Regions from separate parts of the Homo sapiens genome. Here regions 1, 2, 3 and 5 are each reported to be linked to region 4. Evidence: microRNA targets listed by miRTarBase, many of them from high-throughput screens and not tested one by one. Region 4 holds a microRNA gene; each other region holds the end of a gene's coding sequence.
Evidence for each region. Region 4 holds the annotated microRNA hsa-miR-4695-5p (CAGGAGGCAGUGGGCGAGCAGG, at 3,023-3,044, opposite strand). A microRNA usually pairs through its seed, bases 2 to 8, with sites in the 3' UTR of a target mRNA and lowers its output. Matches are read on the target gene's strand: a 7mer-m8 pairs with bases 2 to 8, a 7mer-A1 pairs with bases 2 to 7 and ends in A, and an 8mer does both.

Region 1 (5,092 bases), not on the chromosome of region 4:
AAAAGTAGCTAGGTTAAGATACTTCACAATTACATATAGAATTGGTTCTTAGGCCCTGTTTTGGAATCCCATTTCAAACTGGATATCTGGTTATTTCCAGAAATGCTCATTTGTGCTTCCTAGGAAACTGAGAGACCAAGAACATAAATTCCACTGAATTAGAGACAAGTGTAAGATTTTTTAAAAAATTGATTAACCTGGCTGGGCGCGGTGGCTCACGCCTGTAATCCCAGCACTTTGGGAGGCCGAGGTGGGTGGATCACAAGGCCAGGAGATCGAGACCATCCTGAGTAACACAGTGAAACCCCATCTCTACTAAAAATACAAAAATTAGCCGGGCGTGGTGGCAGGCGCCTGTAGTCCCAGCTACTCGGGAGGCTGAGGCAGGAGAATGGCATGAACCCGGGAGGTGGAGCTTGCAGTGAGCGGATTGCGCCACTGCACTCCAGCCTGGGCGACAGAGCGAGACTCCGTCGCAAAAAAGAAAATTGATTAACCTTTGTTCTTTCCAGCCAAGATGATATTGCTACCATTCTATCTAAAGTGCCACTGGAGAACAACTACCTGAAGAATGTAGTCAAGCAAATTTACCAAGATCTGTTTCAGGACTGCCATTTCTACCACTAGACCCTTGGACCACCATTGGAACAACCAAGCAGAATGTACTTGATATTATTTCAGGGTCCCATTGCTGTTCAGCCTTTGTTTTTACGTCATTACAAGCTGAGTAAAATTCCTTCTGATGATGTTATAGTTAATCTGTATGTTTTTTATATCTCTGCAGAATGATGGTGATGAAGTCTGGATGGTAGGCCTCATAGCCTACTATCAACTTACTCATCTTTGTACCAAAGGTTTAAGTAATAGGACACTTAGGAAAAATGTCTCCTAACTAAACTAGTGCTTTCTGCTTTAGTACAAGCCCTAAGGATTAACTTAAGTATAAGAAGTGTTATCACTGACAAGAACATTAGCCATTTTCCCATAACTAGATAGAGCTATGATTTTTTAGGTTGCCTGGCTTCTGCCTAGCAGATATTTCTGGAGTAGAAATGTATCTGTCTACAAACTATTATCCTTTTTCTCCGTTACTAAAATGCTATTAAGAGAAAGTAGGGCTGGGTGCGGTGGCTCACACCTGTAATACCAGCAGTTTGGGAGGCCAAAATGGGTGAATAGCCTGAGTCCAGGAATTCAAGACCAGCCTGGGCAACATGGCAAAACCCCACCTCTACAAAAAATACGAAAGTTAGCCAGTCATGGTGGCTTGCGCCTGTGGTCCCAGCTACTTAGGAGCTTAAGGCAGGAGGATCACTTGAGCCCAGGAGGCAGAGGTTGCAGTAAGCCGAGACCATTCCACTGCACTCCAGCCTAGGCAACAGAGCAAGACCCTGTCTCAAAAAAACAAAAAGAGAGAAAGCAATAGCACTCAGCTATTGAAATGGTTGCCATCTTTTTTTGAAGGCCTTGCTTTTTATTCTATGGTGTCTATTATGTTTTCTTTTTCTTTTTTTTTGAGACGGAGTCTTGCTCTGTCGCCCAGGCTGGAGTGCAGTGGCATGATCTCAGCTCACTGCAAGCTCCGCCTCCTGGGTTCACGCCATTCTCCTGCCTCAGCCTCCCGAGTAGCTGGGACTACAGGTGCCCACCACCATGCCGGGCTAATTTTTTGTCTTTTTAGTAGAAATGGGGTTTCACGATGTTAGCCAGGATGGTCTCGATCTCCTGACCTCGTGATCCGCCTGCCTCGGCTTCAAAGTGCTGGGATTACAGGTGTGAGCCACCACACCCAGCAATGTTTTCTTAATAAGTATAGTTTTTCTAGGGAAAGTTAATTCATTTTTGTCTAGTACATATATGTAAATATATTAATGTTGTTTTTGTGTTTGTGATGTAGTAAGGAGATGTACATAGAAATTCATTGAGGTATATAGATACTCATCTGTCTAGGCAGTTCCCAATTTTCTGAAGAATGTTTTACAGCAAAATTTTCTATTTTCTTTTATTAAATAGTGACACGTCAAACAATGTCACATCCAAAACACTAGTTTCATCAATTTCTAGCAGTAATAATAGACTTGCTGTAAGTATTGTTTTCTGATGCCATACCCTTGTCATACATATTATTAAATGACCAATATTATGTATGAAGTAGACAAAAAAATTTACTCAAACTTCATTCAAATCCTAATTGTGATAATTTTTGTTTTATATTTAATTATAAACCAAAATACATTTGCATTTTTAAGCTAATTTGTCTCAAAATTTTGCTTTATATTTTTGGATCAGGTTAAAGTCCTGTGGATCCCCTGAATGTTATTGTCCCTCTTGATTGGTTTTTACTTCTGAGCTATACGTCAAAAGACACATAAGCTTCAAAAGTCAAGACAAACCTCATTTGCCATAAAAATCAAGATATAGATGTTCTGTTCCGTAAACTCCTTGAAAAACATTTTAAAGTCATCAATATGATCTGTTTCCCATGAAACTTAAGTTAGCTTTCTTATTGGAGTTATTTCTTTTCTGTAAGTCTGAAAAGTAGAGATTTTGTTTTACGCATTTTAGTAACCTGCAACAACCAACTCTAAAAAAGATTTGGCTTGTAATGACGGTCTCTGCTTTTTTGGGTTTGGAGTACACAATTGTAATATTTACTTAGTTATTTGTGTTTTTCTTTGTTCAAGGTATTGACTAGTTTCATAAATTTTTTGAAAGTTTTTCTTTCATTGGTTGGAAAGCAGATTACATTTTGCACTATTAAAATAAGTTTATTACTTTAAATCTTTTGTGAGTAGTGTTTCTTTATAAAGAATATTTTAGCATTTATCCAATAGACCTTTGAAGATATACCAAAGAAACCTTCCTCTGGAGACACCTACCTATTCAAAACTGAGATTAGGCCGAGTTCAAGCAGGGTGCTTCAGGCCAAGAATTCAAATCCAGCCTACACAACATAGCAAGACCCTATCTCTAAAAAATTTTTTTTTCTTGGCTGGGCATGGTGGCTCATGCCTGTAATGCCAACCCTTCGGGAGGCTGAAGTGGGCAGATCACCTGAGGTCGAAAGTTTGAGACCAACCTGACCAACATGGAGAAACCGTGTCTCTACTAAAAATACAAAATTAGCCAGTCATGGTGGCACATGCCTGTAATCCCAGCTACTTGGGAGGCTGATGCAGGAGAATTGCTTCAACCCGGGAGACAGAGGTTGCAGGGAGCCGAGATCGCACCATTGCACTCCAGCCTGGGCAACAAGAGTGAAACCCCCATCTAAAAATTAAAAAATAAAAATTTTTCTTGTTTTTGAGATGTGGTCTCACTATGTTGCCCAGGCTGGTCTCGGACTCCTGGGCTCAAGAGATCCTCCCATCTCAGCTTCCCAAATTGCTGGGATTATAGGTGTCGGTCACTGCACCCAGTTTGCTATTCTTTTTCTAACTTCTTGTGATGGTAGGTACCTAGCTCATTTATTTTCATTCTTTTTTTTTTGAGACGGAAGTCTTGCTGTGTCACCCAGGCTGGAGTGCAGTGGCCTATCTCGGCTCACCAAAACCTTCGCCTCCCAGGTTGAAGCGATTATCTTGCCTCAGCCTCCTGAGTAGCTAGGATTACAGGCGTGCACCTCCACACCCAGCTAATTTGTGTATTTTTGGTAGAGACAGGGTTTCACCATGTTGGCCAGGCTGGTTTCAAACTCCTGACCTCAGGTGATTCATCCACCTCGGCCTCCCAGAGTGCTGGGATTACAGGCATGAGCCACTGTGCCCAGCCTATTTTCATTCTTTTAACAAGTACTTATGATATATTTCTTTTCTTTTCTTTCTTTCTTTTTTTTTTTGAGGTAATCCATCTGCCTCTGTATCCCAAAGTGCAGGGATTACAGGCGTGAGCCACCATGCCTGGCCCCATATATTTGTTTCTAAGTAATGTTGTTTATCACTCATTCTTCTCCTAATCTGTTTTTTTTTTTTTGTTTTTTTTTTTTTTTTTAATATTTATGTCTTTTTTTGTTTGTTTGTTTGAGAGGCCAAGTCTCACTATGTTGCCCAGGCTGGTCTCAAACTCCTGAGCTCAAATGATCTTCTCGCCTCAGCCTCCCAAAGGGCTGGAATTACAGGCCTGAGTCATTGTGCCCAGTCTCAAATATATATGTCTTTTTTGGTCAATAAGAAAGTGAGATTATTACTGTTTCTTAGAACATGACTTCATAACAGAGCTCAGCCCCAAAGATCCAGATCAGACTTGAAGAACAAGAGTTTGAAGGTGATTGCTCCACAAATAAAAAATACTTGTGGGGCAAGAGATTGATTCCAGCATTAATATGTTTGCTTCTAAAATTTTTTCTTTCTTTTTTTTAGACAGGGTCTCTCTCTGTCACTCAGGCTGGAGTGCAGTATCACGATCATGGCTTACTGCAGCCTTGACCTCTCTGGGCTCAAGCGATCCTACCATATCAGCCTCTCGAATGGCTGGGACTACAGATGCACACTACCACCCCCAGCTAATTTTTGTGGAGATGTGATTTCAACATGTTGCCCAAGATGGTCTCAAACTCCTGGCTCAAGTAATCCACCCACACTGGCCTCCTAAAGTGCTGGGATTACAGGTGTGAGCCACCACAGCTGGCCTAAAATTTTCTTCAGTTCTAAAGTTTGTGAAAAGCAACAGTAAGGCTGGGCACGGTGGCTCATGCCTGTAATCCCAGCACTTTGGGAGGCCGAGGTACAAAGATTTCATGATATATAAACTGATTCTGTCTAAAATCTGTTTTTATGCTAAACTTAGTATCACATATAATTATTTTTAAAAATTTTTAATCACCTTATGTTATCCTATACTAGATTTTATTCATTCTATCTAACTGTATTTTTGTGCTTCATCACTTGAGGTCGGGAGTTCAAGACCAGCCTGGCCAACATGGTGAAACCCCATCTCTACTAAAAATACAAAAATTAGCTGGACGTGTTGGCACATGCCTGTAATCCCAGCTACTTGGGAGGCTGAGGCAGGAGAATTGCTTGAACCTGGGAGGCGGAGGTTGCAGTGAGCTGAGATGGCGCCACTGCACTCCAGCCTGGGTGACAGAGTGAGA
Region 2 (5,103 bases), not on the chromosome of region 4:
GAATCCTTAGCCAAAGCATTTACTCTGCCTGAGCTTTGGTTTTCACAGCTTAAAAATAGATTGTTTAGTTAAATGTTATCTGTAAGATCCTTTCTAGCCTGGATAGATGTTTTGTACTTTTATAAACTTTCATCAGGCCGGGTGCGGTGGCTCACGCCTGTAATCCCAGCACTTTGGGAGGCCGAGGTGGGCAGATCATCTGAGGTCAGTAGTTCGAGACCAGCCTGGCCAACATGGTGAAACCTCGTCTCTACTAAAAATACAAAAATTAGCCAGGTGCAGTGGCAGCCGTCTGTAGTCCCAGCTACTTGTGAGGCTGAAGCAGGAGAATCACTTGAACCTGGGAGGTGGAGGATGCAGTGAGCCGAGATCACGCCCCTGTACTCCAGTGTGGGCAACACAGTGAGACCCTGTCTCAAAAAAAAAAAAAAAAACTTTGATCAAACACCACCTTTCCCTTCCATGCCAATATTATATAATGACTGAACGCACCTCTCCCGCTCCCGGCTTTTTTATAAGTGGGCTGAGCTTTTCTCCTTATATTTTACTTTTTATCAAAAACATTTAACTCTAAATTTGCTTGAATTTAATATTGGTTTTAAATATCTCCAGAAAAGATTACAGTAGCATAAACAGAAGCAAGGTTGCCTTCTTTCACAGTCCCTAACTCTCATCCTTGTAGGGTCATCAAGACTCCTGAGATAGCAAACTTGGCCTTGCTTGGCTTTGGAGATATCTTTGCCCTGCTGTTTGACAACCGCTACCTGTACATCATGGACTTGCGGACAGAGAGCCTGATTAGTCGCTGGCCTCTGCCAGAGTACAGGAAATCAAAGAGAGGCTCAAGCTTCCTGGCAGGCGAAGCATCCTGGCTGAATGGACTGGATGGGCACAATGACACGGGCTTGGTCTTTGCCACCAGCATGCCTGACCACAGTATTCACCTGGTGTTGTGGAAGGAGCACGGCTGACACCATGAGCCACCACCGCTGACTGACTTTGGGTGCCGGGGCTGCGGGTTTTGGGTGCAACCTCTGCGGCAGCCGACTGCATGAACCAAAGTTCTCACCTAATGGTATCATCACGCAGTGCACAATCATTTATCTATGTTTTGCCAGGGGCCAGGGCTCGGGGTGGGGGAGGGCTTGTTTTATTGACATACAACGCAGCATGCTAATGGGGTACACCATTGACTTCATTTGTACTTAGTTATGTTGGTCAGTGTTAGAGGATGCATTTTGGGTTCATCTTTCTTGAGTGGAGTATTGGTTTTAAGTAAAGAAAGTTAAATGATCCATTAATCTGCTAATTGGTTGCCTATGAAATCACATTGTCTGTTATTAAAGCTTTTTACCATAGCCTTTTTTTCTTTTGAAGTTGAAGCAAAGGTGCTATGATGTTGTTACAGCAACTTTCCTCACACGGGGTTTAGCTCTTATAAGAGCCAGTGTTAAAACTTCCACCAAATACCAGTTTATAAACTTCCACCAAATACCAGTGCTAAGGAAAGTCTGTCTTCCAGTTCAAATCCAATTCTGTAAATTGAATGTTAGCAACTCATTCTAAACCTTATATCTTGGCAGAGTCAAGGTTGGCCATGTTTAAGATGTGAGCGAGTTCTGTAGTTTTTGTTGCCATGTCGGGGAAGCTAGTCCCCGGCAGCCTGGATGACTGCACAGCGGTGCCCTGGTATAGCAGAAAAGAGCAGTGAGCTGGAAGGTTAGAGACCGGGCCTCTTACCCTGGAACTCTGCACCCTCTCTGGGTCCCAGCTTCCTTGTCTGTACAGCCAGGTATGAAGCTCAGTGATTTCTAAGATTCTTTCTGGTCCTTCACCTACTGAAATGTGTAAAAGTTGATCATGTATTTTTGTCTGATCCCTGATTCATGGTTTCTTTCAGGTCGGATAATATTTAAATGAAATGACTGTTACAGAGTTTTCTATAAGAACATCAATTATATGAAAAGGATGAATAAAAGGGAAATGTAGAAAATATAGCTGATTCCACTTAGACAGTTTAAGTAATTGGTTGAAGAAATGCTGATAGAAGCCATGGTTTAAATAGGGACACAGTATGCTATACTAGAAGGATACCTGAACCCAACCTAACTTCCTCCTTTGCCTCTAACTTAATCTGCAGCCTCAGGCAAGTTAACTTTCTCTTCTAAGACCATCATTTTCTTCATCTTTTAAGTGAGGGAATTGTCCTAGATGAGGGCTCACAAACCCAAATGCCTAAGGGAGCCGTGCAGGTAACATAAATGAGTAAAACATTCTGGGGAGGATTGTGCTGTCCCCTGGAAAGTTGATCTAATAGGGCAGTTATTCAGCTCTGTTTTGTCATTAGGAGAAGCAAGCCCAGGGTTGGCAGGTCTTCACATTGTTTCAGGAGGAGCTAGAAATCCAGATTTTTATTTGAAATCCTGGATTTTTAAAACGTTACAACTGATTAAAGAAAATTTGAAATAAGGTGAGCCAAACAAAACATGTCCCTGGGTTGCCAGATTGTGTCCTCCTCCCTCTCTAAAGTTAGGTAATTTTGTGATTCAGCAGTGGAAATGTTAGTGGTCACAATCAGGGAGAGAGTAGAGGGAGCAAGCAGTAGAAAAATCTCAGCCGCTCTTCAGCTGTCTCCCCTTGTATTACAAGGGTGGTGGGGAGGGATGTATTTCATTCACAGACCAATAGGAAGGTAGTTTGAAGATGAACATAAGAATTGGAACCTCAGTGACAGCTTATGTCTGGGAACATGAGTTATTCCTTCTTGCTGACTCCAGTATAAAGCATATCCATTTTACAGGTGAGAAAAAGGGTTGCTGGCAGAGCTGAGAATGATGTGAACTCTAGAGTGGGGACCTATCTCTTGCAGAATCTGCATTAGCATAGAGCCAGACTCTGGACCTCTGAGTGCTGTGAAGTTGATAGAAATTAATGGTGAATTTCAAGGACAGATATCATTAATATCCATGTTGAAACTCTGTGGGGTTTAAGCAAAAGAACAATATCTTCCCCCATCCCACAAAATCTGGGTTTAATCTATCTCACATTGAGTTCTGTGCATCAGCTCTGCTTAGTACTCTAGAAATAGAACCGGAATCACAACTGAATCTATTTTGCAGAAGCCCCAGGAGACTTTGGGCAATGATGATGGTAAATGACTTTTTACTTTATTATTATTTTTTTTTTTTTGAGACAGAGTTTCGCTCTTACTGCGCAGGCTGGAGTGCAATGGCACGATCTTGGCTCACTGCAACCTCCGCCTCCTGGGTTCAAGTGATTCTCCTGCCTCAGCCTCCTAAGTAGCTGGGATTACAAGCATCTGCCATGACACCCAACTAATTTTTATATTTTTAGTAGAGACAGGGTTCCACCATGTTGGCCAGGCTGGTCTTGAACTCCTGACCTCAGGTCATCCACCTGCCTTGGCCTCCCAAAGTGCTGGGATTACAGGCGTGAGCCACCACGCCTGGCCGAGTTTTTACTTTTTATCGAGCCTGAACAGATAACTATTACTGATCTAATGACCATCCCCACCCTACCTCACTTTCAGATCTATCCAATAGCTTCAAAGGGCAAGTAATTATAATCATTTGTGGGAAAAGTTTTATTAAAAAGTGACAAACTTGAAGCTGTATATAGTATGTTCTATTTCAGTTTTTAGTGGTGAATACAGAAGTCATCAAGGTGGTACTTGGTGCCGCTGGAATTTTTTTTTTTTCCTAGGCAGTCTTGCTCTGTCATACAGGCTGGAGTACAGTGGCATCATCATGCAGCTGGATTTTGACAGCAGAACTTCAGGCAGTAATTGGAGTCCTAATGTCAGTTCTTCCTTATGGAGGCCTTTATTTGGCCTGAGATTTTATTCAACTACTTTATAGATGCTGGGTTTATTCATACTATCGCCAGTTTTTATAAAAATGGAAAACTAGCTCATCCTTTTTGCAAAAGAAAGCAAAGTGGGGAGTCAGAATGAGAAGTGGATAGGGGATAACTAAAACTATTCTTTACTCTCCTTTCATTGCCTTTGAGAGCTAGCTCTTGCACACACTGACTTTGGCTTCCTTAGCGCATAGGTAAGGGAATTGCCTTTCCCTCTTTTGTGAATATTCTCATTTCTGAAAAATTCTAAGTCATGAGAAGATAAGCCCTATCCTTTCTTACAAGGATTGGATTTCTTGGGTGACACTGTGGTGTGGTGGAAGCCAGCGGCTTCTTTCAGGTTCATAAAGGCCATCATAACAACTTCAGGCTTCATGGTGTGGACAGGGATCCAGGAGAGCTGAGTGGATGTGTGAAGTTTCTGATAGATTCTGTCATCATTCCAAAGGAATGTAGTTTCCTCCAGCTCAATCATTTGAAGTAATACACATTGCCAAATCTGACTGTAACCTGACATTTTAGACCTATTGGAGAAATAGGAAGAAAGCCCCTCCAGTGGAAGGACTGGACTTGGAAGAAGTTCTGCAGGAAGGTGCATGCAATTGGATAGCTGTTCATGAGTGAAACGTGGGGAACATTGCTATGAAATTGTAAGGTTTGCACTTCATTTTTCGTAGTTTAAAAATTGCTCTGTTCTGGCTGTTGAAAACACTTGGTGTGAGGTTTGAATGAGGATTATATAATCATTCTAGTATTCATAGGAAAATGATTACTGCTCTCTATTTGTAAAACAAAAGAAATAACTTTCGGAAACAGTATTTTAGACATGAGGAAATTGTTTGTATTAGGCATTTTGATCTAACAGAATCAGCTAAGGATAGTGGATCCTGGCTTTACACATTTCTTTGACCAAACCCAGCTGGCAACTTGAAGTTGTTACTGTGTGGCTTCCAGATTGCCTAGAGGTGAATCCTACCAACATCACTGTTTTTTTTGTTTTGTTTTGTTTTTTTTGTATGTTTTTGAGACAGAGTCTTGCTCTATCCCCAGGCTGGAGTGCAGTGGCGTGATCTCGGCTTACTGCAACCTCAGCCTCCTGGGTTCAAGCGATTCTCCTGCCTCAGCCTCCTGAGTAGCTGAGACTACAGGCGCGTGCCACCACGCCCAGCTATTTTTGTATTTTTAGTAGAGACGAGGTTTCACTATGTTGGCCAGGATGGTCTT
Region 3 (5,096 bases), not on the chromosome of region 4:
CCAGAAATGCCGTTTACCCGGAGAATTTTTTTCTCCCCATTTGTTTTGTTTTTACTCAATGACACCATTTTTAGTTTTATTTCCTGATAGCAAAAGGAAAAAAAACACCCATCCCTCAAAAAGGCCAAGGTCCCGTCCCCCTGTTGTCGGTGATTTGTTTGTCTTTCTGATAGGTTGAAAATTGTGTAATAAACTTGATGACGCTGTCAATCTTTTATACTGCATTGTATTTTTTTCCTTTTGTAACAAAATATTTTTAAATAATAAATGGGGTGTGAGCTGTTTTATGGATTCTGCATTGAATAGATTTGTTGAGGTGTCTGGGGCATGGGCATGGGCTGATGTAGACACTCGAATGATGGTGAAATGCCAAGTTCTTAGCTAGGATTGCATGTCAGGCAGTGATACATGGCTTTAGTTGACTGTGGAAAGCCTCCTAAGAGACCTCTAATGCAAACCTTTGGAGGCATCCCTTAAGGTTTAGCTTTTTTCCTTGGCCATCTAAACAGCTGGTTAAAGAAAACTTCTAAGTTATCCTTTACCCTTCAAGATTCCTAAGACTTATTTTCAGAGCAAATGTTCTACCTTGTGCAGTTAAATTCCAGTATCAAGTTCAGGAAGGGAAGAATCCTTTGATAGGAGTTAGAAGATCTGACTGGTAGTGCCTAGTTTACCACCTGTTTATCTAAATATGGACAAGCAGTGTAACCCTGGTCTTTTTCACCTACAAAATGAAAATAATAGCTGTTGTGCCTTCTACACAGGGATGTTTTAAGAGTCAGAGATAACAAATGTGAATGTTTTGTAAACTGCCTAAATATGAGGAAGTACATAGTGTGGGTGATCTTGGGGCTCCAGAAAAGCTTTTGGCTTTAAAAAGCCAGGTGAAGGAGGGTTCAATGATTTAAAAAAAAAGTGAACCACAGACCAGATGATAATGTGTATGGTACCAGGAATGGCAAGATCACTGTAAAAACAAGCTTTAGGAGAAGAGATTCCGTAGAGGGTCTATCAAGATGTGAAACTTAAGGAAAAAAAATAGTTGGAATACCTTAGAATGTAAAACTATTACTTTCAAATTGGGTTCCATGGTAACCCACATCTTAGTTGTACGTCATGCTTGCTAAGACACCTGTTCCTGTGCTGTAGCAATCTCTACATAAGGTCTAGGTGTCTGGTTTTTATGCCCCAGATGACTTGTAAACTAAATTGTGAGGACTAGTAGCTTAGAGGCAAAATTCAGCTTCATCTAGGAGGTACCATGGTGGTGTAGAAAAGGAAGGATTTTATGGTTACTCTAGGTTCAAATCCCAGTTCCATTTCTAAGCTGAATGCCCTTGGACACATGACTTAACATCTGATTAATTTCCTTCTGCCTCATAGGATCATTATATGAATGAAATACACTTTGCCAGGCACTGGATGATTAGTAGTCTCCACAAGCTGCTGCCATGGTATGGAGCTAGAATCAATCTGCCCTAAATGCTTCCTAAACTGGGCGAGACCACTGCAGTCACTTGCTGGTTCTAGCCATGAGTGTGAGTAGCTGAGCAGGCCTCTGCCAAGCTTATGACCAGGGCCTGTTGCTTTGCTCAGTTCTCTCCACTGTCCCAGAATTTTGGTACCTCCAGCTCTGTGTGGACTGTAAAGCAGCTTCCCTTGACTCTAGTGAGCACAGCCTCTGGCCACGATAAATCTGAAAGACTAGCTACACTGATTTCTGTGATCCCAAAATGTTGGGATCACAAGTGTAAGCCACTGTGCCAGGCCTCCACTGCCTCAGTTTCTGTTGTATGTCCTAATTATGTGACTAACTGCATCTACACAGGTGGTTCCAACAAGCATCAGGAAAAATGAACATTTATCACGCAACCCACAGGAAGCACAATGCACTAAACTTCCACATAACCACCCAGTAAATGAGAGGACTTCCTATTCCTAATCACAGCCTCATTTTCAACCATCATCCTCATTCTCAAGTATGAGGAAATGGAATTTCCTTGATCCAGACAGACTCCTAAGGCAAGATTTCTAGTTCCACCTGTTAATAACCAGATGTGTGGTGCTGGTTATGTCACTTCTCATCTCTAAGCCTGCAAAGTCGGGGGTAAGACTTGGTTCATCTCTAAAATAGGTCTTTAAATTCTAATGGATTTTATAAGGCACCCTTCAACTTCCAATTGAGCCTTCCAATCATTTATATTGCTGTGGCAGTGAGCTTAACCAGTGAACCTCTAAATAGGCCATACAGAATGGGCTCTCTTCCAGTTTGATACCAGCGATTTCTTCAACACAGGGAGAAAGTAGCAGAAAATTGGTATTAGTGGGATTTGTAATTATCAGGGCAGTTCCTATTGAAGGTTTTGTTACTGTGTCATGGCTGATTAGACCTGTCTACTCTGGTTTTTGGATAGTCCCCAAGGGCAACTGGGAGGCAAGGGCACAGAAGGGGTAGGAAACAAGAAAAAACATCAGTGCTTTGGACAGCAGAGCCCCTCAGGATAAGAATGAGCTTGATCATAGAAAGTAAGAGTTAAAGCCAGCATAGAATGCTTAAAGTTACATTTTACTTCGAGTAAGAGCAGATAATCTAGGATTCATCTGAAAACAGAAGAGCCTCAAGGTTTTCTGAAGTGGATTCCGTCATGGCTCCTCGTGGCTTCTTGGAATTAAAAAACATGGCCACTACCAAGGAAATGAGGAATAATTTTAAAGATGCTTACTTGGAGAAAGAAAGTATACATTGATCTAGAGTGACAGTTCTCCAGCTTAAAAAAAAAAAAAAGTGTTCCTTTTATGTTGACTCAAAATTTTATTTTTGAGACAGGGTCTCACTCCTGCACAGGCTGGAGTACAGTGGTACAAACATAGCTCACTACAGTCTTGACCTCCTGGGCTCAAGCTATCCTCCTGCCACAGCCTCCTGAATAGCTGGGACTACAGGTGCGCATCACCACACCTGGCTTGTTTTTAAATTTTTTGTAGAGACAAGGTTCTCACCATATTACCCAGGCTGGTCACAAATTCCTGGAATCATGCAATCCTCCTGCTTCAGCCTCCCAAAATGTTGGGATCACAAGTGTAAGCCACTGTGCCAGGCCTCAAAATACTAAAATAAATGACCAAAAAAAAAAAAAAAAAAACATCAGCTGGTTGCAGTGGCTCACACCTATAATCCGAGCACATTAGGAGGTAGAGGCGGGAGGATCGCTTGAGCCCAGGAGTTACAGACCAGCCTGAGCAACAAAGACCCCATCTCTACAATAAATACAAAAATTAGTGGGCTGGGCACGGTGGCTCATGCCTGTAATCCCAGCACTTTGGTAGGCCAGCAGGCAGACCACGAGGTCAGGAGTTTGAGACCAGCCTGGCCAGCATGGTGAAACCCCGTCTCTACTAAAAATACAAAAAAAAATTAGCCCGGCATGGTGGTGCACACCTGTATTCCCAGCTACTCGGGAGGCTGAGGCAGAAGAATCACTTGAACCCAGGAGGCGGAGGTTGCAGTGAGCCGAGATCATGCCACTGTACTCCAGTCTAGGTGACAGAGCGAGACTCCGTCTCAAAAAAAAAAAAAAAAAGCCAGGCATGGTGGTGTGTGCCTGTAGTCCCAGCTACTTGAGAGGCTGATGTGGGAGGATCACGTGAGCTAGGGAGGCAGAGGTTGCAGTGAGCCAAGATCATGCCACTGCACTGCAGCCTGGATGACAGACTGAGACACTGTCTCCAAAATTAAAAAAAAAAAAAAAGTTAGTTTAGAATATGCTTCTTCCAGTTTCACATGGCCCACTGGAAAAAAGCTAACAATTATCTGTAAGAGGAGTGAGACAAGATGCTGACTTTGGGGCAGAGTGAAGCAAATAAGCAGTCTTTTGCATGACGAGAGACTTGAAGATACAGAGGATGGCAGTGCATTTAGGGTTTAATTTAGGCTGCAGCTTGGGGAAGAAAATCAGTGGTCATCACTGCCTTTTGTCCACACTGTATCACTAAGCAAAGCTCCTGAGAACAAACTGCTGGGATAGTCATGACCCTCTCTTGGAGTGGATGAATTCTAGGGACAGGTGCCATAAGGAAAGGCTGCAACCCCCACAACAGAAAATACATATTTATTATAAAATAAAGTTAGTTTCATGAAGAGAGTAGAAAAATAACACTATGAGCTACTAAAAAAGTTGTGGAACTCAGTCTCCGAGGATTGGGGTGAGAGGCTTTCACATCACTCTGGAAACCCACCAACATGAGGCTCTCCGTGCTCATGTGGGACAGGTATAGCACAGCTCGTACAGGGAGCATGTGGCTCAGGTCCTGCTTGAAGCCCAAGGAGCCTAGATGGTCCACACGAGATGCTCTGGCCACGGTGATCAAGGAGGAGAACTTGAGGTCAGCAGGGGACTGGTTCTGAGAAGGGGCAGGATGGGAATAACCTTGCCCCTCCCTATACTGGAGTGTAGAAGAGTCTCTTGGGCTGATGGTCCTGGTTTAGAAGATGGTACCCACTGGCCTTATGCTGAGTTGCTTGCCCAAATGTCTGTGCTGAAGAAAAGCCACACAGCCTTTCTCAGGACAACTTGCCCCACCAATTCTCACTGGTGTGGCTAAAGTACCAGAAGCAATATGTGTGGTGTCAGCCTGATGGGCTGCTGGCTGAAATTCTGTACTTCAAATCCTGTCCATACGATGGCAGAAAGAAAGAAAATGTTAAAAGACCAGTGAATGAGAGCAGCTGGCCTCGACTGTTCTATATTCCAAGCCTCCTGGCCCCAAAGGATAGGGAGAGTATCTTCCCTGAGTGGGAAACGATCTACCTACCCTAAACAGGAAAGGCAATCCCATAGCCACCCCTTCCTCCCTCTAGAAAAAAGTCTTCTAGACCCCTTAGGCTTCAGAAGAATACTGAATCCCTCCCTGGGATGGGAACCCAACCCTCTAGTGATGAGAAATGGTCCCTCAGCAGCAGTACCTGGAGAAAGCAGCCAAGGTGAGCACCTCAAGTAAAAGCTCTGAGCCACAGAAGAAGAGCAAGATGCCATTCATGATGGCTTCCAGGCGGAGTACGTAGGTCTGCAGCAGCAGGTAATAGGAGGCCATCATGG
Region 4 (5,103 bases):
GAAGGACCCTGAGCTGCAGACCCGGGCGTCTGGCTGCCTCCAGGCATCTCCACCCAGATAACACCCGAAGTGACCAACAGGAGATTCATCTTCCCCCGAGCCCGCTCGCCCTCCCAGGTGCCCATCTTGAACATTCTCGCTGACAACCCCCCTCATCCCCACACGCACCCCAACCCCAACTCCAGGACAGGCAATGGCCACTGTGCCTCCCTGCATCCTTCTCACCTGAACCTGCCCCCTTCTCCACATCCCCCATCTCTCCCCTGGTTCAAGCCCCTACCACCCCTCCCTGGAGGTCAACAGTCCCTGGCCAGTCTCCTGCATCAGGTCACAGAGAGATCACTGAGAATGAGGGTGCCAACACAGGGGCCCAGAGGAGCCAGCAGGGAAAGGAAACAGCGTGGATCAGGTATGCAGGGAGCCAGAGGGCACCCACCCACTTCCAGCCAGTGGTACCACCAGGAAATGCAAGATCAGAGCATCCAGGTCCAGGGGACCAAGACAGGCCAATATTTGGATTTATCTATGAAATTGTCCCAATTATACAAAGTTGGGCCATCACTGTTAGGAGTCAAAGAAAGTAGAGCCTCTTGCCAGATCCAATTTGGGGGCCATTATTTGCAATCTCTGCCTGACACAGAACTCTGACTCAGCCACTCTCCCTGCTTGAAGCCTTCCATGGCTCCCATCACCTTCAGGATAAAGGCCAGACACCTTTGCAGACTCCTAAGTATCTTATGGTCACTGAACCACTCCCTGCCGCCACCTCCAGCCTGAGAGCCGGGACCTTGTCCCTGGTGTGTGCTCACCACTGAGCCTTAGTGTGAGCTCCAAATTTCCTGCTCAGCCAGTGAGTGCATGGATGGTCGAGATCAGGTAGTGGCCTGCCTCCCCTACCTCAACTCAAACCATGCCCTGCCCTCACTCTCTTGCCCTGTCGCCCCCAAACTCCACACTCCAGCCACACAGGATCCTGCCATGCCCCAGAGCACAAGTTTTTGGCTTGGCAACATTGTATGTGCTATTCCCTCTCCCAACATATATATTCTTCTCCTGCCTCTTCCCCTCTGCCTGGCCAACTCCTCTGCTTAGATGTCACCTCCTCCAGGAAGGCTTCCTGACTCCTCCAGTTCATTCTGTGCTCCCCTGTGCCCTTTCCAGTAGCAGAGGTAGCACTGAAATCAATATTACCCACAGCTGTAGGGTGCACTTCCAGTCTGCGAAGCTCTTTCCTGTTCATTAACATGTTTAATCCTTGCAATGACTCTGCAAATTAAGGATAATCACTCCCTGTACAGGTGAAGAAATGGAAGCTCAGAGAGGTGAAGTGGCTCACTCATAGCCACACAGCAAGTAAGGGAGTAGAGTCCGTGCATGACCCCTGGGTTCACAGCCCCATCCCCAGGCAGACAGCAGGTGAGCAGGTGAACGTCCCCTAGCCACCACAGCCTACACCATCCCCAGGGACTTACGGCACACTGCCTGTGAAGTTGATGCCACAGAGGTGCTCTGAGCTGGTGACAGTGTCCCCAAATAGGGGCCCATCAGCTGGCACAAACTGGATGATGTTGGGGGGCAGGCCAGCCTCCCGAAGGATGCGGTAGACAGCATAGCTGGCCAGCATGGCAGTGTCACTGGGCTTCCATAGGACCACGTTGCCCTGCCCGGGAGGTGTTTCAGTGATGCATGAGGATGGCGCCACCAGCCCCCAACCCCCACCCCACCCTACCCTACAGCATGGTTGTCCCTCACCTGGAACCACCAGACTCTGTGCCAACCAGGACATCCCCTACCCGACCCCACTCCTCCAAGGCGTCTGGCCCTATCTCCAAAAGTCCCTGCCAAGGAGGCCACGGCACAGCCCAATCTGCCCCACGCTCTGGCCAAGGCTCCCTTTCCCCAGAAGCCTGCACCAACCGGTCCTGCCATCACCTAGGCAGGTCTGTTCTTACTGCTAGAGTCACTGAGTGCTCACCGGGCGCGGCGGGGCAAGTACACACGGGCTCTCTCAGCACATGTCCTGGGTCAGGCATGTGCAGCAGCCAGGCACGTGGGCGCCTGGCCATGCACCGTGTTTGTCTGTGCACAGATGCATGAGGACGTCCCCATCCATGTCCCTAGTACACACTCCGGCATCAGCATCCAGTGCCCCTGTCTGGGGCTCGGGGTTCCCGACAACTATGTGGACCTCTCCCACCCAGGCTGTCTGGGAGCTGGGCTGCACCTCCCCCACAGGCCTGGGACTTCATCCAGTAATAGCCAACCTCACTCCGATAATGGCAGAGGAGTGACTTGAATACCATCAACCCCGAGAGAGACTACATCCAAATCTTTCTCTGCTCCATCATTTATTTACTAGTCACTCAGTCTTGCCAAGTAAGTCACGGCTGTGTGTCTCAGTTTTGTCATCTGGCAAAGAGGCAGAGTCACAACTCCCTCTCGAAGCTGCTGAGAGGATGAAATGAGATCATCTCCATGCCGTGCTTGACAGCAGCAGGCACGTGGTGAGCACTGAAGGTCAGCGGTAATGATCATCAACAGAGCCACCAACACTCAGCCAGCTCCGGGCCAGCCCTGCCTGCTGCTGGATGTGTCTCATTTGAGCCTCACAACCCAGTCATGGAGGCTTTCCTATTATTTCCACTTTGCAGATGAGGAAACTGTGCCTCAGAGAAGTTCAGGGATTGCCAGGGTCTCCCAGGCAGAGAGGCACGACGCTGGGATTCAAACTGGGTCTCTGGTCCCAAAGCCTACCCACAGCCCCAAGCTGCCTCCACCTTCTGTGCCTCTCCCCATGACTAGGCTGAGACCCAAGGGGCTCAGGGTGGCCTCTGTCTGTCTGTTGGGACCAGGAGGACAACCAGCTGCCGCTGTCCCACCTGTGCCCACATCTCACCATCAGGGCCGGTGCCCCCGCCAGGTTGCCGCCGATTGCAGTGAAGTTAAAGGGCGAGATGGCCGCCACGAAGCCCTGGGGAAGGAGGCAGCGGTGAGATCAGGCCCATGGCATTGGGCTGCCCCGCCTGCTCGCCCACTGCCTCCTGCAGGTACCTCCAGACCCCGGTACACCGTGCTGTTGGTGCTCGGGGGCACGCTGATGGGCTGCTGCCCCTCCAGCTCCACCGCATACTTGGCATTGAACCGGAAGAAGTCGATGAGTTCCGCTGCAGCGTCAATCTCCGCTTGGATCACGGTCTTACCCTGCAAGGCAGAGGGCCGGGGGTCAGGAGCAGCCAACAGCCTCCTGTCCATCCTCTTCTCACATCTGACGCTGTGCCCAAAGCGAGCACTGAGCCGGGCCCCAGGAGGGACCAGGAAACATTTGGAGGGCTCACCAGGTCCCATCCCAGGGGCTGAGGGGGAAAGGATTCTCAAGCCCCTGAGCTAGCACCTCCTGTAGCCGGCCCTCTGGGCTGGACGGGGATCAGAAGAATTTTAGTGATCCTCTGTAGCAGGCCAGGTACTTGCCATGCACTGTCTTCATTTCATAGCAACTCTGAATGGTGGTGCATGGCAAAGGATCTATGGTCAAGCCTCAGACTAAATTCAGGATCAGAGCCTTCCAGACAGAAGGGCAGATTAGCATGAGCTGGAGATTGGTCACTGGAAAACCAGGAGAGAGACTCGGTGTGTGGGAGGTGGATGGCTCCTTCCCCAGGAATGATGTTCGGCCTTGCTGGTTAGTTTGGGCCAAAAACCAAGAGGCGAGTGACTGTGATTCCCTTAAACCGTCAATTCTTAATAACAGCAAATGTGAGCTGCAGGGAAAAGAACTGTGGACAGCCAAGAACGGGGCTTTTCCAGATTGACGTGGCCTCCTCTTGGCACCCAAGGTCACTGGCAGGTGCACGACCTATTAGAGACACACAGCCCATGAAGCTGAGCTAAGATGTGTACCTTGCTTCCTAGAAGTTCCTGAGTCTTAGGCCAAATACAGAGAAAGCCTAAACTGATCCTAGACTGTCTTCCCAGCAACGTGCGGCTCACCAGGAACACGCAGAGCTGACGCCCACCCCAGAGGGCTGCTGAGCCAATCTAAGAAGGCATTTAGCAGGCTGAGGGGCTGTCATACCAGCTCTGTGCAGCAGAGGGGGCGCTCACCATGGGGACCGAGGAGCAGGCAGTGGCAAATGCCTGATCCAGAAAGCAGCCTGGGTTCTGGCTCCTGCAATTTACCCTTCAGGAACCCAGGTTAGTTGGCAGCGTAGGGCTCAGGTCCTGGAGGTGGTGAAATAACCCTTTCTCCCTCGACTCCTGTCCCCCGCACACTCTGCCTGCTAGAGCCACTCCTCACTCAACTTGCATTTAGCAGGGTGAGGAGCTGTCATGCCAGCTCTGTGCAGAGAAAACCATTGATCAGGGGCTTGCTATGCCTCCTGAAAGGTATCATGCAAAGCCCAGAAAAAGACCGAGAATGTCAAGACATGTTTACTATGTCCAAAAAGCTTGTAAAGGGGCAGTACCTAGGAACTCAATACACTCCAGTGCAATCTGAGCTGTAACTGATGCAGGAACAACATGCTCTGGGGAAACAGAGGCAGGAATAGTCCTTTCGGCTGGAGAAGGCTCAGGAAGTCTCACGGAGGGGGTGACATCTGGGCTGGACCAGGAGGTAAGAGTTCACTGAGCACGGAAGAGACAGCAGGCATTCCAGGCAGGAGGACACGTGGGCAGAGGCAGAGAGGATGCCTGCCATGGCCGGGGAGTCCTGCTAAGTGCCAAATGGCTACACTATGGGCAGGACAGCTTGGCAGGGAAATGCAGAGCAGTGGGCGAGCTGGACAGAGGTGGGCAGAAGGGCCCTGGGTATGGGGCTCAGGTCTTGGGACTTGCCTCTCAGTGGTGGAGAGGTCTGGGTGGGTCATAAGCCAGGAGTAACATCCTGGAGGTGTTGGAAAGACCACTCTGAGGGCGGCGAGGGGCTGACCAAGCTAGGAGGCAGGGAGACAGTGCAGGCCACCACCAGTCCAGGCAAAGCATGACAAAGGCCTAGGAGCGAGGACAGAGGGATGGAGGAGAGGGGACATTTCCGAGGCAGGACACATGGGCTCTGCACAATCTGTCTCGCCTAATAATCTGTGATCATCCATCCCAGCTCCTAGG
Region 5 (5,103 bases), not on the chromosome of region 4:
CTGAGCCTGCAGAGGAGCCTGCCACCCCAGGGTGGGGACGGGCCTCTGAGATCCCTCAGAGGGGTGGCCCTGGGGATTGTGGTGTCAGCCCCAGGTGTCCCCGAGCTTCCAGCGGCCCTGGCTCCCACTACCCACTGTGGTCCTCTTCTTTCCCCAAACCAACCAAAACGCAGGGCCTCTGAAATGCAGCACTAAGGAACAGGGGGACAGTGTGGGCTCTGGAGGCAGCCAGGCCGGGGTTTGAATCCTGGCTCTTCCACTTATCGAACCCTTCAAGGTGGGGGCCCCTCTGCCTGGAGGACTCAGTGAAGGGACATTCTGCAGCTGTCCAGAAACAGGAACCAGGTGGAGCAGGGGCAGCTTTTAATGGCTGGTCATGTCTTTCAGGAGTGACTGGCTGCAGGCAAGACCAAGGCCACCACTGTGGGCCCTCCTTCCAGTCAGGCCTGAGGACAAGGTGAGCTCGCTGAGTCCAGCCTCGTGGTCTTCTCCAAGATGCCGCCAGATGCCCAGCCTACAGCCTCTCAGGGTCGGATCGGAGCACGCCTGCCTCCCTCTCCCCTCCGCCCTCACCCAGCCAATCCGAGGCTGCTTCGCACTTTGCCCTCTGCCTGGTGGGGAGGGGAGAGCTCAGCCCCCGACTCACTCAGACCCCAAGGCCCACTGTCCAGCTGCAGAAATTCGTTGCCAAAGATTGGACAGAGACACCGAAGGAAATGGGGTGGTGAAACCCCACAGCGAAAAGCCACACCGTTGCTCTGTGACTTTTGCTCCTCCTGTTGCCTGAGCCCCATCTCAAGCCAAAGATGAGTCAGTGGTTCTGCTAGGAACTCATGGAATGGATGGGCATTTGATGACCCCTGGGGGTCATCTTGGCCCTCTGACCTGGTGCTCTCTCTCCACTGGGCCTTGTGCTGGCTGAGTGCAAGACAAGCCTTAGGGGCTGTGAGAGGGAGGCTGGGGTGCCTGGGCGGGGCTGGGAGTGGGACCTGAGATCCCTGCCCACTCTCTCCCCTTCATTGGCTGCCCAGGCCACTGGCCCCAGTTCTCAGTGTCCCTTGGGTCCAGGCTCCTTGGGCCCTAAGCATCACCAGAAGGGAGTAAGCAGGGAGAGAAGCAATATTACTCCCTCCCCTACACCAGGGACTTGCCCCAGGGCAGCTACCTATGGGTCTTTGCTTCCCCAGCCAGCCTCTCCTCACTGTGACCCACCCCCATGGGCCCCCGTCCCAGGCAGCCAGCACCATGGGCAGGCCCTGCCATGGACAGAAAAAGAGTTTTTCTCTTGTTCAGCCTGCACGTGGCCTGAGGAAGGAGTAGAGGCTGGGTTGGCTGGAGCCGTCCTACTGGGCAAGATGGCGCCCCACTTGGAGGGCGGTGGTCTGTTACAGGGTGTGCAGGGGCAGAGAAGGAAGGGACCAGGGGACTGGGCCAGTATGTGGAGGATGGGGCCTGCGTGTTCAAAGCCAAGGCCCGCCCCTTCCTTGTGCTCAAATGGCCAAAGCTGTTCACGTCTGTGCTCAACCATCTGCTTCAAATTGAAGTAAAAGCCCCAAAATGTCAAGAAAATACTTGTGTTGAGTGGACTCTGTGGGTGACCAGGACTTTGGCCGGTCATCAGCTGGGGAGTGTGAGGGAGGGGGTTGGTTTCTACCTACAGGTTGAGAGCCCTTCAGGATCAGGCGCTGTCCGAGTGAGAGTGTGTGTGTCTGTGTGTGGAAGGGGGTGGAGGGCGGTTCCCACAGTAGTCTCAGCCTGGACTAGTGACCAGGAGGCCTGGTCAGGAACACATGAGGAGCCCTCTCTGTCCGCACTGCACTCAATCTGTACCATGGATTTATGAGATAGGGGCCCCTATTATTAACCCCGTTTCACAGATGGGGTAACTGAGGCCTCAAGTAGACAGGGTCAGTCGGTGACAGAGCCAGTCATCGAATCAGGATGGGCTCACTTCAAATCCTGTGCTCTCAAACCTTTTCCAGCCCCATCACCAGTCCCAGCCCAAAGTCTCTTGTGTGGCCTTGTCACATTGCTTCACCTCAGCGGGCCTAAGGTAGGGACAATAAAGGCCCATTGGGACTGGGGGAAGGGGTGATAAGATAAAAAATAGGAGAGCACTGTCAAGGCAGAAGGGACAGGGCTGGCCAAGGAAAGGGGGATAGGAGGGGACCGGAGGCTGCAGCCATACAGGACACAGTTTGTCCCTTGGTTTCACCAGTGTCACTTTCTCGTCTCTGCTGCTCAGACTCCTGGGCTGGGCTGGGGCTGGCTGCAGGGAGCCCCCCTTGCAGTAGCGTTTCTCAGGCTGGCCCTTTACCAAGGACCACAGTGTCCATGCTGTCTTGGATCCCTAGGCTGGCACAGAAACAGGGGACCCAGGTGGCCCTGAGCACTCCTCAGAGCAAAGGTGCTCTGGAAGCAGACTGGACAGAGTGGGCATGGAATGGGGCCAGGAGGGTCTGTTAGGAAGGTTCAGCCACCCTGTGAAGCTGGCACAGATAACAGCACTGCTCTGTTGTCCCTCGGAGCCTCTGAGTAACCCTGATGGCACTTCCTAAGGCAGCAGGACATGTGGACTGACCAGCATCAAACTGTTGACATAGAAGACCATTTCTATTACCAAAGGGAGTGTACCCCATTCTGCTGCCAAGGGAGCAAACCCATGGCCTTACCACCCAGAAAGAGCCCATCCTCCACCTCCCATCCCCCTCCTGCATACATACTTCATTACATGTTTCCCTTTCATTCTGAAGCATCATTGATGACCAGCTGCCTGTCAGACACTAAGATAGGCAGTGGGAATGAAGAGATGGATCTTGTGTCATGCATGGCATCACGGAGCTCTGGGTTCTGTACGGAGGGTGGGACAGACAGGTAGACAAGCAAATAATTATGATTATAGCAGATGACTAAGGTGTTGTCGGGAGCTTCAGGAAAGGAAGAACTAACTCTTGGGGAGGTTCTCAGGAAGGATTTCCCTGGAAAGTAGCCATGGGACTTGCGTCTTAAATGGTGAGTAAAAGCTTTCTGAGCAGGGGAGTAGGAAAAGGGCTTTCTATGCAGAGGAGCACTCAGCGCTGGCAGGAAATTGGAATCACCCAAGGAGATTATTAAATATTAAATATTGATATGAAGTATTGATGCCCAATTTCATCTCCAGAAATTCTGATGTATTGGTCTAGGGTGTTGCCTGGTCATTGGGATTTTTACAAGCTCCTCAAGTGATCTTAATGTGCAGGCAAGGTTGAAGCCGCTGGTCTAAGTGGGGTCTGGTCTACGATAAGAAAGTGACTTTGAGCCATCGATTTGGGAGACAGGCTCTGGGTGGATGTGTGTGTGTGCACACATATGTATGTATGTGGATGACTAAAAGTGCATGCTCTCCTCTCCTTTCCCAGCTTCCTCTCCAGCACAGCAACTTGTGTTCGTATGCACACACATGCATACTCTCTCTCATGGGCACATGCATACCCACACACACACTCGTGTACATTTCCAGAAAATGGAATTACATTTCAGATAGATTCAGATTCCAACGGCAGTCTTCTAAACACTTTTATGCAAGCAGCCATTCAAGGAGACCCTCAGCAAAATATAAATGACGAGGAGCTGCCCTCATGGGGCCCTGTGAAAGCACTTTGCAGTCCAGCCTTGGGTTTGTGGTCACAGAGTCACCTGTGGATGTTTGTAGCACACTCTCCTTGTCTTGTCTGCTCTGGGTCACCAGGCACAGGCCATAAAGGGATGAGGGGGCCCTCTCCAGGGACCCGCAAGATCTTCCTGGGTATGTCTGCATGAAGCCCCACGTGTGCACACCCATCTTCATGTGTGTGTGTGCCAGCCTCCTGCTCTCTGCAGAACAAAACCAGAAGGAATGGCTCTGGGAGTTGGAGATCTCAGCTCACAGGCCAAGCTTTGCAAGACTCTCCAAAGACTGCCCACAGACTGTGCTGCTTCCTGGGTCTGGCCTGAGACTATCCCAGAAGAGAGGGTTAAATTCTGGAGGTGAGGTTTTGAGCAAGTGTTCATCCCCCCACACTATGCTCCTTCCTGTCTCCATGGCCACATCCTTCAAGGCTCTGTGCTGTTCTCTTTTTTTCTGGATTTCTCCACCTCCACCAAGTTCCCCTTTCTCACAGCTAGTGGAGGCATGAGTAGGCAGGTCCCAGGGGCTGGGAACTGGGTAGCATTGCCATGTGCAGGGACTGTGTTGGGAGCTGCAGGTACAGAGCTCCTCTGTGCTCAAGAGCTTGCCGGTGAGCCTGGACGGAGGCATAGGTGCAGCTAATTAGGATAAGACAGGGGCCGCGCTGTGGTCAGCCGTGGGAAGCCGGCGAGGGGACTGGAGTTGGGGCTACACTTGCCTCCCTCCTATGCTGCTTCCTGAGCCACGAAGTGGTCATTGCCAGCATCCCAGGCAACAAACAGCAAGACTCAGACATCTCCAAGGAAACCCTTTGAGTGGATCTGTACCGTTGTTCTCGTCTTGCTCTCTTGCTGCCCTGCCACCTTCACAGCTGCTTTCTGTTTCCTGGTTCCAGGAAGACAGCGGGGCACAGGGTCCCTGCTTTGTGAGGAGCAGCTGGCTTCTCCCTTTGCCCCCAGGTTTTGCCCTCCCACATGTCTCCCTTCTGGTGACCCGGACCCCAGACAAACTATGCCTGCCTCCCTGAAGCCAGGCATCCTGAGGAACTTGATAGACAAACAATGACAGTGTTTTCCAGAACTGTGGGTACGTGTCTAATCTCAGATGGTACTATGAATTCCTGGAGATCAAAGTTTGGATCTAATTCAACCCCTGATCCTCGAAACGGCTTTCTTGCAAAGTGTATATATTGGTTTCTTTGCTGAATGAATGAATAAAACATGGAAAATGTGGTAATTCACTCATTTTTGTTTTCTTCCTTCCACAAATAACTCCCAAGCATCTAATTTGTTCAAGACCTGGGGAAAACAGGACCCAGGCCAGGTGATCTTTTATATGGCTTCGGAGAGGCTTGAAGGGAGAGGGGCTTAGAGCCGAGAGAAGCCTGGCCTTGGACCTTTTTGCTCTTTATGTGGCCGAGTCTTTGAGAACTGAGCGAAGAGGACAGCATCACAGCA

Region 1: miRTarBase lists KNL1 as a target of hsa-miR-4695-5p. Seed matches in the 3' UTR shown: 7mer-m8 at 1,585-1,591.
Region 2: miRTarBase lists FBXW2 as a target of hsa-miR-4695-5p. Seed matches in the 3' UTR shown: 7mer-m8 at 3,259-3,265, 8mer at 3,291-3,298, 7mer-m8 at 4,971-4,977 and 7mer-m8 at 5,003-5,009.
Region 3: the mRNA of TMEM216 is a reported target of hsa-miR-4695-5p. The part of its 3' UTR that is shown has no 7-base or 8-base seed match.
Region 5: miRTarBase lists ATOH8 as a target of hsa-miR-4695-5p. Seed matches in the 3' UTR shown: 7mer-m8 at 3,841-3,847 and 7mer-A1 at 4,368-4,374.

Annotation. Positions count from the first base shown.
Region 1 is chr15:40,661,562-40,666,653 of GRCh38, forward strand. It overlaps KNL1 (kinetochore scaffold 1), which reads left to right. Exons shown (of 26, transcript NM_144508.5): 26 at 513-2,781. The coding sequence ends at 627. Among named protein-coding and RNA genes, the nearest start is that of RAD51-AS1, 31 kb to the right of the region's middle.
Region 2 is chr9:120,760,427-120,765,529 of GRCh38, reverse strand. FBXW2 (F-box and WD repeat domain containing 2) reads left to right here. Exons shown (of 8, transcript NM_012164.4): 8 at 683-5,103. The coding sequence ends at 971. Among named protein-coding and RNA genes, the nearest start is that of FBXW2, 30 kb to the left of the region's middle.
Region 3 is chr11:61,397,843-61,402,938 of GRCh38, reverse strand. It overlaps TMEM216 (transmembrane protein 216), which reads right to left. Exons shown (of 5, transcript NM_001173990.3): 4 at 4,964-5,096; 5 at 4,093-4,669. The coding sequence ends at 4,663. It overlaps CPSF7 (cleavage and polyadenylation specific factor 7), which reads left to right. Exons shown (of 10, transcript NM_001142565.3): 10 at 1-210. Among named protein-coding and RNA genes, the nearest start is that of TMEM216, 7.8 kb to the right of the region's middle.
Region 4 is chr1:18,880,228-18,885,330 of GRCh38, forward strand. It overlaps MIR4695 (microRNA 4695), which reads right to left and starts at 3,048; the gene lies at 2,975-3,048. It overlaps ALDH4A1 (aldehyde dehydrogenase 4 family member A1), which reads right to left. Exons shown (of 15, transcript NM_003748.4): 6 at 3,052-3,201; 7 at 2,897-2,971; 8 at 1,473-1,660. RefSeq lists a silencer at 3,902-4,133.
Region 5 is chr2:85,786,498-85,791,600 of GRCh38, forward strand. It overlaps ATOH8 (atonal bHLH transcription factor 8), which reads left to right. Exons shown (of 3, transcript NM_032827.7): 3 at 388-4,886. The coding sequence ends at 393. Among named protein-coding and RNA genes, the nearest start is that of MIR6071, 5.4 kb to the left of the region's middle.